Linked DNA regions of Homo sapiens. The protein of the gene in region 1 purifies or fractionates together with the protein of each later gene. This does not show direct contact. Each region holds a gene or a part of one and is shown on either strand. Other genes may lie near its edges.

Region 1 (5,404 bases):
TGACTATAACATGGGAAATTTTGTGAAGTAAAAATGTTACATAAATGTAAACACACTTTCACTGTGTTTACAATCATTTTAAGCCATGATAAGTTGGTAGAACAGAGTGCATATTTATTTATCACTGTCAAAGTCTTACTGCCAATTGCAATCAGTCATTTCTCACACTACTTCTTTAGTTAGAAAGAGAACAATAATGCCAGAAGCTAAATTGAGATCAGACAGCAACCAGTCCTCTGTTCAGCCACTACTGCAATTTAATGCCTTCTTAAATTACAGGTAATATACTTAGTTGAAAAGTTGTATTAATATACTTAGTTGAAAAGTTTATTTTTCAAGAGAGCATGCTGAACCATAGCTGGAACTGTAGTGTTATGTTAGTAACTGTTGGCAGCATGCTAAATGGGGTCAAAATCATTTACTTTTAAAAATTATTTACCATGAAACCAGAGGACAGGAATGTTCCTTAGGTGAAAGACATCATCTTATTTAACCACAGAAAGCACAGAAGCTATGCCCATGTTTAAAATATCAACTGGTATTTCGGTAGTACCTTGAGACATCTAAAGATCCCAAATCACTACCAGAATAAGGTTGAGAAGAGAAGAGAGCTCCCATACAATTTGAAACTTGACGCACGCTCATATCCAGGTGGTGTTTCACCTGTACTTCCCATGCCCGTGGATGCCCCCACATGCCCCCAACTACACTACACAACCAACCACACCATCTCCTTGTTTGTAATAACTTCTTCCTAGGCTACCTGGATTTTTACTTGCTTACGATGGGATTCTGATTTTATCTATAAGAAAACCTAGAAGTTTTATTCCCCAAAGCTCCCTTCATTAGTGTCCTTGGCTTCAGGGAAATGTGCCCAAATCCTGAGGAAGAGATGAATGCTGCCAGTTCTGCCTGTAGCATCCAATTCTTCCTGATGGCTTGGATCAATGGTTCCTAATCAAGTTCATTCTGACAAAGAAGAGAGACAGCATTTTCCAAGATGGCCTAAAACTTCCTCGTGTAATTTTCTGTTTCTCCATTATGATTTCTTACCTCAATCATATCTACCCATTCTCGTATGTTAAGAAAGCTTTTCTCACATGTAACATCATACAGCAGCAAAACACCATCTGCCTTTCTGAAGTAAGACTTGGCAATACTTCTGAATCTGAGAAAGAGAAAACCACATCATCAGTCAGTTTGTGTTGCCTCATTCTTCTTCTCTTTTATGCTCATTTTTTTCTCCTCTTCTAAAATCAACACCAGTTGAGAAGACTCTAACTGCAATATATGACTGAGACATAGGCATTTCAAAGGTCTCGAATGACCCAATGAAAGGTAACATGATGAGAATCTGGGTGACCGACTTAGAAAATCCAATCCTTCTCTCTACCAAACAACCCCAAGAATGTCTACAATCCCCAGAGCACAACCAGGGAAAGGTTGAGAGCACAGTTTCCAAAAATTTCAACCTCAGCAACAAGCTACCAGAACCCACATGTGGGACACAGAGGAGGCTGGAAGGAGATACGAACTAGAGAATACTTATTTTTGGTGGTGGTGGTGGTTAGGGAGTATTGTGGGTGGATGGAGGAACTACCAGTGTGGAACGCTGTAACATACCAGGACTTTACATACATGGGGGTCAGGAGATTCACCTTGGGAAGAGAACACCTCAACACACATGCCCTAACTTGAAACCCAGTGCAATATTTTATAAGTATTTTAAATACAGTCATGTCAACCACAAATATTTTTTATATGTTGAAATTCCCAATCTGCTAGAGAATATGAGCACCATGGGGGCAGGTATTTGTGCCTGTCTGTTCACCACTGAATCTCAGCATGCTGAATAATGCCTGGTACAGAGGCAGGCACCCCATACTTACGGGTTGAACAATTGAATGGATTTTGTTCCGAAGGAGTTAAACAAGATTAAAATCTGTGCTTAATGCTCTGCTTATCGGTAATGAATGCAAGGTAAAGTGCCATCACCAAATGCAAGTCTGCTATGCGGTTTGTGCCTCTGCCCTTAATCAAGGGGAGCTGACTGGTTCTCTTCTCCATCATTTATTGTTCTATAGCCAGGGAGTTCCTCAGGCTGTCACTGCACTCAAAAATGCTGCCTCTCATGTTAGCAAAGGGCACTCTCTGTCTCAACTGAACATCAGCTCAAAAGAAGCTTAAAGATCCTCTTCTCACAGGAGTCATAGGTAAATGAAGGAGATGTGCGAGAATATAAGCATTTTAAAGTTATAATACATTTTATAATTATACATGTAATTATGCATATAATTATAAAGTATGTTATAATTATAGAATTTTGAGTATGAAGAACATCAAGTGGCCTGCAAGGCTTGTTAATGCAAACCCAGGATATCCCATAGCGCTGCGGAATGCACTTGCCTCTCCTGACCAGCTGTATCCCAGAGCTGCAGAACTGTTCGTTCTCCATCCACAATGAGGGTTTTCATTTGGAAATCAACTCCTGAAAAGGAATGTGAGAGTGGAGAGCACGATGTAAATAATTCCATTGGCTTTTTACTTTCAAGCCTTCTTTAGATGAAGCAAAAGCCAATAATACACAGCTCAGCCAGGGAGGGAGGAATGAACATGACCTTTAAGGAGAGTGACCTTCAAATAGGAATGACAAGTCAGACCACACGTGTGTGCAGAGGCACCATCTGCAGGTTGGCTGACTTGGGGAATGATTTAATTTATGAGCCAAGGGAAAAATCTGTTTTATTTTCCCTGATGACTGGATGAACTCAGTCATATTTGTGTGTGTGTGTGTGTGGGTGTGTGTACATGTGTGTATGAGTGGGCATGCATGAATGTGCAGGTGTATACGTGTGTGTATGTATGTGTGTAGGTGCAGATACGTGTTTTGTGTATATGCATGTATGTATATGTATATGTAGGTATATATGTATAAATGTATGTATATCTAAACATGTATACATATGCGTGTGTATATATACACACGTTAGTGCACACACACATTTACATGCATCATGGTCTCTGACAACTGAACCAAATACTGTATGTAGTCTTTTTATGAATCAAATTGAAGTAAACTTTCAGCTTTGTTAATGTTGAAGAGTGTATCAGAGAACCATAAATTTACAAAGACACTCATGTGAAGAGGACAATCAGTCTGTTCTAACATTTCGGGTGATCAAAATAAGAACTCTTTAGACGAAGAAGAAAAATAAATGATAATTTGCATATCTTCAACTCCTTTTACTATTATGCAAATTTGGGAAATCAGGATACTACTTGTTCTATTGTTCTGTTGTGAAGGTGGGTAACGGATCATATATCTGGCTATGATTTTGACCATAATGACAAAGTGGCAATCCATATTGTCACTTTGTCAACATCAAATACTTCAGCAGAAAGGGTTTTCCTGGCCACCCTGCGTAAAACCGCACCTCTCCCTAAACTTCTTTTTTGTACCTTTTCCCTCCACTGGGATGTAAGTGCAGTGCAGGCTGGGATTGTCAGCCTTCTTCATGGTGTATCGTTTGTACCTACAACAGCATCTTGTTTTTAGTGGGACTCAGGAAATACATGCTGAATAAATGAATCTGATATCTCAGGATCTAAATTTGATTCAATTCATCTGATTGGCTAAGCAGATATCTCTCTTTTTTTTTTTTTGTGGCAGGGTCTCACTCTATCACCCAGGCTGAAGTGCAGTGGTGTGATCTCGGCTCACTGCAACCTCCGCCTCCCAGGTTCAAGCGACTCTCCAGCCTCAGCCTCCCGAGTTGCTGGGACAACCAGCACCCACCAGCATGCCCAACTAATTTTTGTATTTTTGGTAGAGATGGGGTTTCGCCATGTTGGCCAGGCTGGTCTTGAACTCCTGACCTCAAGTGATCTGCCTGGCTCGGCCTCCCAAAGTGCTGGGATTACAGGCATGAACCACCGCACCCAGCCAGATATCTCTGTCATTTTAATCTTCCTTTCCTAAAAGCAGGCCTTGGCCAAAACAAGAAAGACCTTTCCATAGACTAGGAGACACACACACACACACACACACACACACACACACACACACACACACACACACATTTATATATGTGTGCATACACAGAGAAAGAGAAAACTGTTAACTGAGCATCTGTGTATGTAATCCCTGAAGAAGAGAAAATCAAGCTAAGGAAGGTCATTTTCCCATTATCAACCGAAATACGAGCCATACCCAGGGTGGCGCTTATATTTTCTCGAAATTCATTCTTGCAAAGTCTCATGAGGAAACTAGACTTCCCCACTGCAGCGTCCCCAGCAAGTACAATCTTGTAAGCCTTCTGTGAGCTAAAAGATTTAGCGTTGTCATCTACCAGGTCTGTCTGGGGGGAAAAGCCACAGTGAATGATAACGGTATTGCCAGTTTTCATCCTAATAAGTAACACTGCACAGAAAATAAGCAGTGTTCATGAATAGGAGTGTCTCGGAGACCACCTACCTGGGGCGAGAGTGCTGAGATGGGCTTTCTTGATGAACTAACAATGCTGCCTTCACTAACAGACCCTTGGGGCTTCCAGTCTAAGACGGAAGCCACATCTTCTAAACCAAATGTCTCTTCATCCCTTATGTCAGGAACCTATTTTTTTTAAAATGTCAGCAGTTAAATTAAAAAATGTCAGCAGTTAAAATACAAAGTCTAAAATGTATACATTATGGATTAAAAAGAAGAAAACTATGCAGCTAAATCAACAGTCAATGCTATTAATATTAGGGAATAGAGTGACACTGAATGGCAATCTATGAGAATTTCTCCCTAACTCTGTGGAGGAAAAAGCATTTTACTAACTATGCTTTACATCTATGACCTTTAAAACAGATTTCCATGACAGATAGAAGGCAAATAAGGTGACAGATTTCAATCACGTAGAAGGCCTAGGAGAGCAGTGGTTTCTGGGGCTTACATCTGTGTCTGAAGCATCACCTCCAAAGCTCTCCTGCACCCCGTGTGACCTCTGAAATCCCCTCTGGTGCTTGTATTCCACTTCTGAGTCATACTCATTGGGATCTCTCAAGGTAGACAAGCCGCTGTCGAAGCAGCTTTCAGGCAGGCTGTCAACTTCACAATTTGTCCTCTGCAGAGGATCACAGAGGGCCAGGGAGTCACAGTCCTCATCCACATAGGAAGAGCGGGATGACCTGGTAATAAAGGGGAAGACCAATTTACCTGAGGGCTGGAAATGCTCAAGAACATACAGGCAATAGACCACATGCCATTAGATGGAATCAAGTAGGCCGACTGTGGCTAAGAGCCGCAGTGTTATTTCATGATTAGGCATTAGGGGAAATAAAATGCTCAAAGCACCATCAGTTCATTCTATGCAGCAATCAGTTAAGATAAAGAACCTTACATCAAACACTTAACAAACAA
Region 2 (3,500 bases), on another chromosome or scaffold:
CTTGCTTGCATTATTTTTCTCCATAGCACTCATGCTTGTCTGTCGTACATATTTATTTCTTTATGTATTTTTGTCTTTCTCCACTTAAATGTAGACTCTATGAGAGCAGGGATTTTTGTCTTGAGGCTGGCATAAAGTAGGTACTCAACAACTATTTGTTGCATGAATGTGGATACATAACATGAATGAGCTTACTTTCTCTTACATTGCTTTTTTTTACTGAGGCAAGACTACTGCCAATATTCTTATAGATTTGGGAATGACCAGTTTCCCTGTGGCTTTAGGAGGCAGTGAGTAATTGAATCATTAAATAAATGTGGTGCCTTTGGATCCTGGAAAATAACTAGGAAAATGACCTAGTTCTTACAGGGGTTTATATGAGGGGTCTTCCGGTAAGGAAATAACCCAGTTATTGTATGGGGGGAGGAGTTCTGCCAGTAAGGAGGAAGACTGTGAACCAACATGAGAAAGAGCTCTCATTTTTAGCCTTGAGGTTGAAATATAGTGCAGTTGCAAGATTAAAACCATCTTTGCCTGGATGAAGGGACTTGAGAAGCTGGTATGTTGGGAAAGTATGGAAGAGGAATTGTTCTTAAGAGATTAACAGATTCTTTAACTCAATGCTAAACTATTTGAGAACTGTAAATCTATATACTTGTTCCTTGCCTAATTGTTAGTTTGTATTCCAAACATCTCTCCAGTTGTTAATAAAAAGTTTATCTACTTGAAGAATCTGAAATGAGGACAAGGAGGTGTGTTGGTGGGATGGGGGAGCTTAGAGTAGTGACATTTTTCCAGAGTGAAACAGGAAAAGCTTTTGAAGGAGAAACTGCCCCGATTTTTCAAACTGTAATAGGACTGAATGTATTTTGGGAGGGTTTTCTAGGAGAGTAGTTTTTCACATGGGAATGGAAACTTCTAAAGAGAAGTCGTAACAAATGTGAGAAAGGAAATAAAAGCAGAAGCTACCTTTCAGCTCAAGACATTAGTGTGTGTGTGTGTGTGTGTATGTGTATGTGTATACACATGTACACACCTGTGAACAGGCGCTTGCAAATCGGCAAAGTGGACGTATATTTAATTAAGCCAGGACCTGAAAAGGGGTAGGGAAGTTTTGGATACAGACACTCTCTTCTCCTTCGCTCCCTTAGGCTAAGGGCATACTGTGCTCTGCACAAGGTTTCCTGGGAGTGGGAGTTGACTGGGCAGACATTCACCTCACCTCGGTGGAGTCATCGTATAGTTTAAAGCAGCAGTTGTCAACCAGGGTCAGTTTGTCTTGAGGTGACATTTGGCAGTGTCTGGAGATATTTTTAATTGTCAAGACTTGGAGGGGAGGGTAATACTACTGCCATCTAGTGAATAGAGGCCAGGGATGCTGCTAGACGTTCTACATTGCACAGCATATTCCCTCACAACAAATAATTATTTGCCCAAATGTCAGTAGTTCCGAGATTGAGAAACCAGCTTAAAGTGTACAGGTGTGTGTCGTATGATTGAGCTAGGGTTCTGTGCTAGTAAAGTTGTTTTGCCTGCAAACATCAGAAAGCTGATCTATTTAAGTAAAAAGGGAAATGTAACAGAAAGCAGAAGAATATCTGAACAACCAAATCAAGGAAAGAACAGGAACCAGCTAGCTCCTAGAATCTCATTGGAAGAGTTCTTGGACCTTCCTCTTAAAGTAGCAGCAGGGTTTTTTAACCTTGGCATCATTGGCATTTTGAAATAGATAGTTCTTTGTTGTGAAGGCTGTTCTGTGCATTGTAGGATGTTTAATGTCTCCAGACATTGCCAAATGTCTCATAGGAGGCAAAATTACTCCTGGTTGGGAGCTACAGCTTTAGAGTGCTGGCCTATCTTCCATAATTCCCAGTCTTTGATCTCTCCTGTCAGGTTTCAGAATCCCCTAGAGAGAAAGCCTTTGTGACCCAGTTTTGTCTACCCATGGTTCAATTAGCAATGGCAAAGGGTTGTACAGCAAAAATATGGTAATGGAGAGGGCTATTTTGAGTTAGGCTTGTTGCTCCATTAGTCATCTGTAATAGGCAGTGCACTAAATTAGATTTCCAAGGGCCTCATTTGCTACATTAAGGAAATTGAACTTTATCCTGGGGGTGAGGAGTGACTACTAATAAAGGTAAGAGGGATATGCTCATTAAAGCAGTCTTATTTTTGAAGTCTAGGGTTTAGGAGCAATATCTGGGGTGGAAATACGGAGTCTACAAATGGACTCTGAGTAACTTAAGTAGAAAATGGGGCCAGGTGTGGTGGCTCATGCCTGTAATCCAAGCACTTTGGGAGGCCAAGTCAGGCAGATCACTTGAGCCCAGCAGTTTGAGATCAGTCTGGGAAACATGATGAAAACTCTGTCTCTACCCCAAATACAAAAATTAGCCAGTCTCATAACCTGGTCTCAAAAAAGAAAAAAAGAATATTCATTATGGACATTCAGAAGGGTTAAACACATGCAGGATTTGGTGCCTGAATGGCAAAGTGATGAGAGGGATTAGAGTGCCTCACTTTGTGTTGATGGGATTGGCCACTAGATTGAGGATATATAAGGAAGGGGAGGAGAGGGCGGTAGCTGATAGCCTGGAGAGAAAAGGAAAGAACCGTCAAAGGATTGGGAATGCTATCTAGGTGGAAAAGTAATGGAGTAAAGGAATGAGATAATTGGAAGGGTTGGAGATTTTGTCTGAAACTGTCACATTGAAGTTTAAGATTTTAGAAGTGAAGTAGATCTGGTTTAGGAAAAGCTATCTGAGGCTGGGCGCCGTGGCTTATGCCTATAATCCTACCACTTTGGGAGGCTGAGGCGGGTGGATCACCTGAGGTCGGGAGTTCGAGACCAGTCTGACCAACACGGTGAAACCCTGTCTCTACTAAAAATGCAAAATTAGCTGGGTGTGGTGGCCCATGCCTGTAATCCCAGCTACTCGGGAGGCTGAGACAGGAGAATTGCTTGAGCCCGGGAGGTGGAAGTTGCAGTGAGCTGAGATCGGGCCATTGCACTCCAGCCTGGGCAACAAGAGCGAAACTCCATCTCAAAAAAAATAAAAAAAAAGAAAAAAAAGAAAAGAAAAGCTATCTGATATGGCCATAGAAGTGAGTTGCTGAAGAAAAGTTAAGGTGCATATAATTGGAGATCAATACTGCTAGGTCTAAAATCTTTCCAGTACTGACCATTCCTAAAAGGAAATGCAGTGTAGCTTATTTAGTCTGCCAGACATTATTTTTTCAAATGCTAACTTCACATCATTACTGATAGGCTAATATTTGTATCATAAACTTTTATGGTAAAGCTCAGTAAATAATTTTTGAGAGTTTATGTATTTAACGTTTTTGAGCACATATATATATATGCCACATAGTGGGCATTAGAGATACAAAGATGAGTAAGACATGGCTTCAGTTTGTGGGAAGCTTCAGCGATTCCTATTCTAATATAAGAAGCATGAGTAGGATCACTAACTGTAACCTATTTCTAAATTGGACTACTT
Region 3 (3,500 bases), on another chromosome or scaffold:
ATTAAAAATACATTCACCAGAATGGCTACAATGCAAAGCACTGGCAAGGATATAAAATAATCAGATCCCTCACACACTTCTGGTGGAAATGTAAATTGGTATAGCCACTTTGGAAAATGGTTTAGTGTATCCATTAAAGCTAAACATATACATATTCTACAATCTAAAAATTCTACCCTACATATATTCCCAACAGAAATGCGTACATTTGTTTAAAGGACATGTACTAGAATGTTTCTAGTAGCGCTGTTCATAACGGCCCTAAACTGGTATCCAGAAGTCCATCAACAGTAAAATGTACAAGTAAACTGAGGTATTATCACATAATGAAATGCTATACAGCAATGAAAAAGAATCTACAACTTGATGCAAAATATGGATTAATCTCACAAATCTTGCACTAAAGAAGCCAGACATAAATGTATAAATATAATTCAATTTATATAAAATACAAAATTGAATCTATGCTGTTAGAAATCTGGACATTGGTTACCCTTTGGTGGAGATAATGACTGGAAGGAGACACAGGGCAGGGTGGGAAGCTTCTCAGATGCTAGTAATATTGTTTCTTCAGGTGGCTGCTAGTGACATGATCATGTTCAGTTTGAAACACTCAATAGATGGGAGGCATTATAGCAGCAGAGTGGTTGAAGAGCACAGCTCTGGAATTGGAATGCCTGCATTTGAATCTCTATCACTTACTAGTTACAACTTTGGGTAAGTTATTTAACTTTTCTGTGCTTCCTTTCTTCATCTATAAAATATGCCTAATATGCACCTCATAGGGTTATTATGGGGACTAAATTGTCTTAAGATTTGTAAAGTGCTTATTAGCACAGTGGGCTATTATTAAATACTTGCTAAGTAAATAAAAGTGCTTTATTCTGAAGCAACACAAGAAAATGAGAAAGGGAAACAGAAACATAGGATTTAACTATTACTAGAAAATGCATGAAATAATTATTTTGGAAAAGAACGTGATAATAACTAAAGTCTAGTGTAAAAAGAACATGACTGGAAGTTGTGACTAGTCCGACAAGCTTCCACCTAAGTGACCTTGGAAAAGTAACAGCCTCTCTGAGCCTGGAACTCCTACTATCAACTGGAGGCTGGCCCCGATGATCTCTAAGATCTTTGCTGCTCCTCAGTGTTCATCAAGATGATGAGTGGAGGCAGTCATCATGAACTAAGAGGGCTAAATTTGCAATCAGGCTCTCTTATTCTCCAAAAGAAATGCTGAACTCTTCTATGCCTCTGAATTTCATCTAACATGTTTTCAAAATATCTATCATGTCTATCAGCCAGGTCTCTATCGCTGAGGTTCACATTTCCTGCGGTCATTTAAAATAAATAATTAAGGCTCCTGATGGGTTTTAAAAGAGCTAGCCGGGTTTCTGTCATCCATGCCATCACAGTGGACCTAACTTCTTTGGCTACATTATATAGCGACTCTTTATTAAACATCTATTTATATGTCAGGCACTATAATAAAAACTTTATCCCCAATGCGCCAAAAAAAACTACTAGGTATGTATTATTCTTCCTCCTTATCTTTTACAGATAAGAAAACTAAGGCTCAGGGCCGGGCGCAGTGGCTCACGCCTGTAATCCCAGCACTTTGGGAGGCCAAGGCAGGCGGATCACCAGGTCAAGAGATCAAGACGATCCTGGCCAACATGATGAAACCCCATCTCTACTAAAGATACAAAAATTAGCCGGGCGTGGTGGCGTGCACCTGCAGTCCCAGCTACTCGGGAGGATGAGGCAGGAAAATCACTTGAACTCGGGGGGGCAGAGGTTGCAATGAACCGAGATTGCACCACTGCAAAAGGCTGCCCTGCTGATTAGTGGCAGGGCTGGAAGGTGAATCTGGCATGTTTGGCTCCAGAGCCCATGCTCCTTCCATTAACGATAGATGCTTGCCTTTCTTTACAATTGATCATATTTCTTCTTATTTGTATAACGAAAGGTCATTAGCTTAGGTCACGTAAAACAAGAAAAACCTAATTTAGTGAAAAATCAATTTTGAATATTTTTTAAATCATTGCTTTGTGTTTCTAAGAAAAGGTTTCTTCCAAGGTCTATTTAAATGAATACTGGGCATTAAAGCTATTTGCATTGAGCAGCAGTCATGAAAACCAAGAGTTAAACCCTTTAAAAGGCATTTATATTTCTTCCTCACTGCATCTCCAGTGCCCAGATTAGTGCCTGGCCTAGGGTAGGCATTTAAGAAAATCATATTGAATACCATTCTCTTCAAATCTCGTTTACCAAAATACTCTACTACTAAGGAGGGTGCATTCCAACAAGATACTTTATCATCTGAAAAACTTCATGTCCAAATAAGCATAATATGACTCACTGGTGTATCCTCTCTGCTGTGGGCCATTCTCCTGTAGGTCAAATGGCATCATCAGCAACAAGTAATTATCAAACACCTACAGTATTTATTTAATACACTATATCTTTATTTAACTTGATATGCCTTCCCGTCTCTCTCTTTCCCCATCAGGTTTGGGAAGCCACAGAGTCATAGTTCCTCCCCAGGCAGGCTAGCCTGTATGTGGTAAAGACTACACAGAGACACAAATGTCACATGTGATTAGGCAGCTTTTCCAAGCTAAACAAACACAAAAGCCCCAGGAGTTTGGCCTTTCCCCTAACAAGACTCATAATTTACCACCTCTTCCTGGAGTCCTGAAATTGCAACTATAATGTGACCTCTTCCTCAGTCCCCTGCCCAATGCTGAGAAAATCAGAAATTTTCCCCAATGTCTGTGATACTTATTCCTACTTCATCTATTAATAAAAAAGGCACTGTGTTCGCCAAGGAATGTGTAAGCATATACTGCTAAAATTTTTCTTTAAAAATTATATGTTCAGGCCAGGCACGGTGGCTCACGCCTGTAATCCCAGCACTTTGGGAGGCTGAGGCAGGCGGATCACGAGGTCAGGAGATCGAGACCATCCTGGCTAACATGGTGAAACCCTGTCTCTACTAAAAAAAAAAAAAAAAAATCAGCCGGGTGTGGTGGCACGCGCCTGTAGTCCCAGCTACTTGGGAGGGCAAGACAGGAGAATCGCTTGAACCCAGGAGGCAGAGGTTGCAGTGAGCCGAGATCGTGCCACTGCACCCCAGCTTGGGCGACAGAGTGAGACTCAGTCTCAAAAAAAAAAACAAAAAACAAAAAAAACTGTATGTTCAGGCTGGGCGCAGTGGCTCACCCCTGTAATCCCGGCACTTTGGGAGGCTGAGGCAGGATTCCTTGAAGCCAGGAGTTCAAGACCAGCATGGGCAACATAGCAAGACTTGATCTCTACAAAGAAATTTTTAAATTAGCCAGGGGCATGGTGGTGCATGGTCTCAGCTACTCAGGAGGCTGAGGCAGGAGGATCACTTGAGCCTGGGAGGTCAAGGCTGTAGAGTGCCATGATCGCGCCACTGCACTCCAGCCTAGGCACAAAGCAAGATTCCGTCTCTAAAAAACAAAAACAAGGCT

What was found. The genes of interacting proteins can lie anywhere in the genome.
Region 2: the proteins of RASEF (region 1) and BLTP3B purify together in Homo sapiens (affinity purification with mass spectrometry; one large-scale study listed by BioGRID and IntAct). This does not show direct contact.
Region 3: the proteins of RASEF (region 1) and BLTP3A purify together in Homo sapiens (affinity purification with mass spectrometry; one large-scale study listed by BioGRID and IntAct). This does not show direct contact.

The regions. Positions count from the first base shown.
Region 1 is NC_000009.12:82,995,959-83,001,362, forward strand, and holds part of RASEF (ras and EF-hand domain-containing protein), read right to left. Parts: intron 5,173-5,404; coding exon 4,938-5,172; intron 4,613-4,937; coding exon 4,475-4,612; intron 4,359-4,474; coding exon 4,211-4,358; intron 2,489-4,210; coding exon 2,407-2,488; intron 1,169-2,406; coding exon 1,054-1,168; intron 1-1,053.
Region 2 is NC_000012.12:100,136,375-100,139,874, reverse strand, and holds part of BLTP3B (bridge-like lipid transfer protein family member 3B), read left to right. Parts: intron 1-3,500. UniProt on the Homo sapiens protein: Tube-forming lipid transport protein which mediates the transfer of lipids between membranes at organelle contact sites. Required for retrograde traffic of vesicle clusters in the early endocytic pathway to the Golgi complex.
Region 3 is NC_000006.12:34,795,083-34,798,582, reverse strand, and holds part of BLTP3A (bridge-like lipid transfer protein family member 3A), read right to left. Parts: intron 1-3,500. UniProt on the Homo sapiens protein: Tube-forming lipid transport protein which probably mediates the transfer of lipids between membranes at organelle contact sites. May be involved in the retrograde traffic of vesicle clusters in the endocytic pathway to the Golgi complex.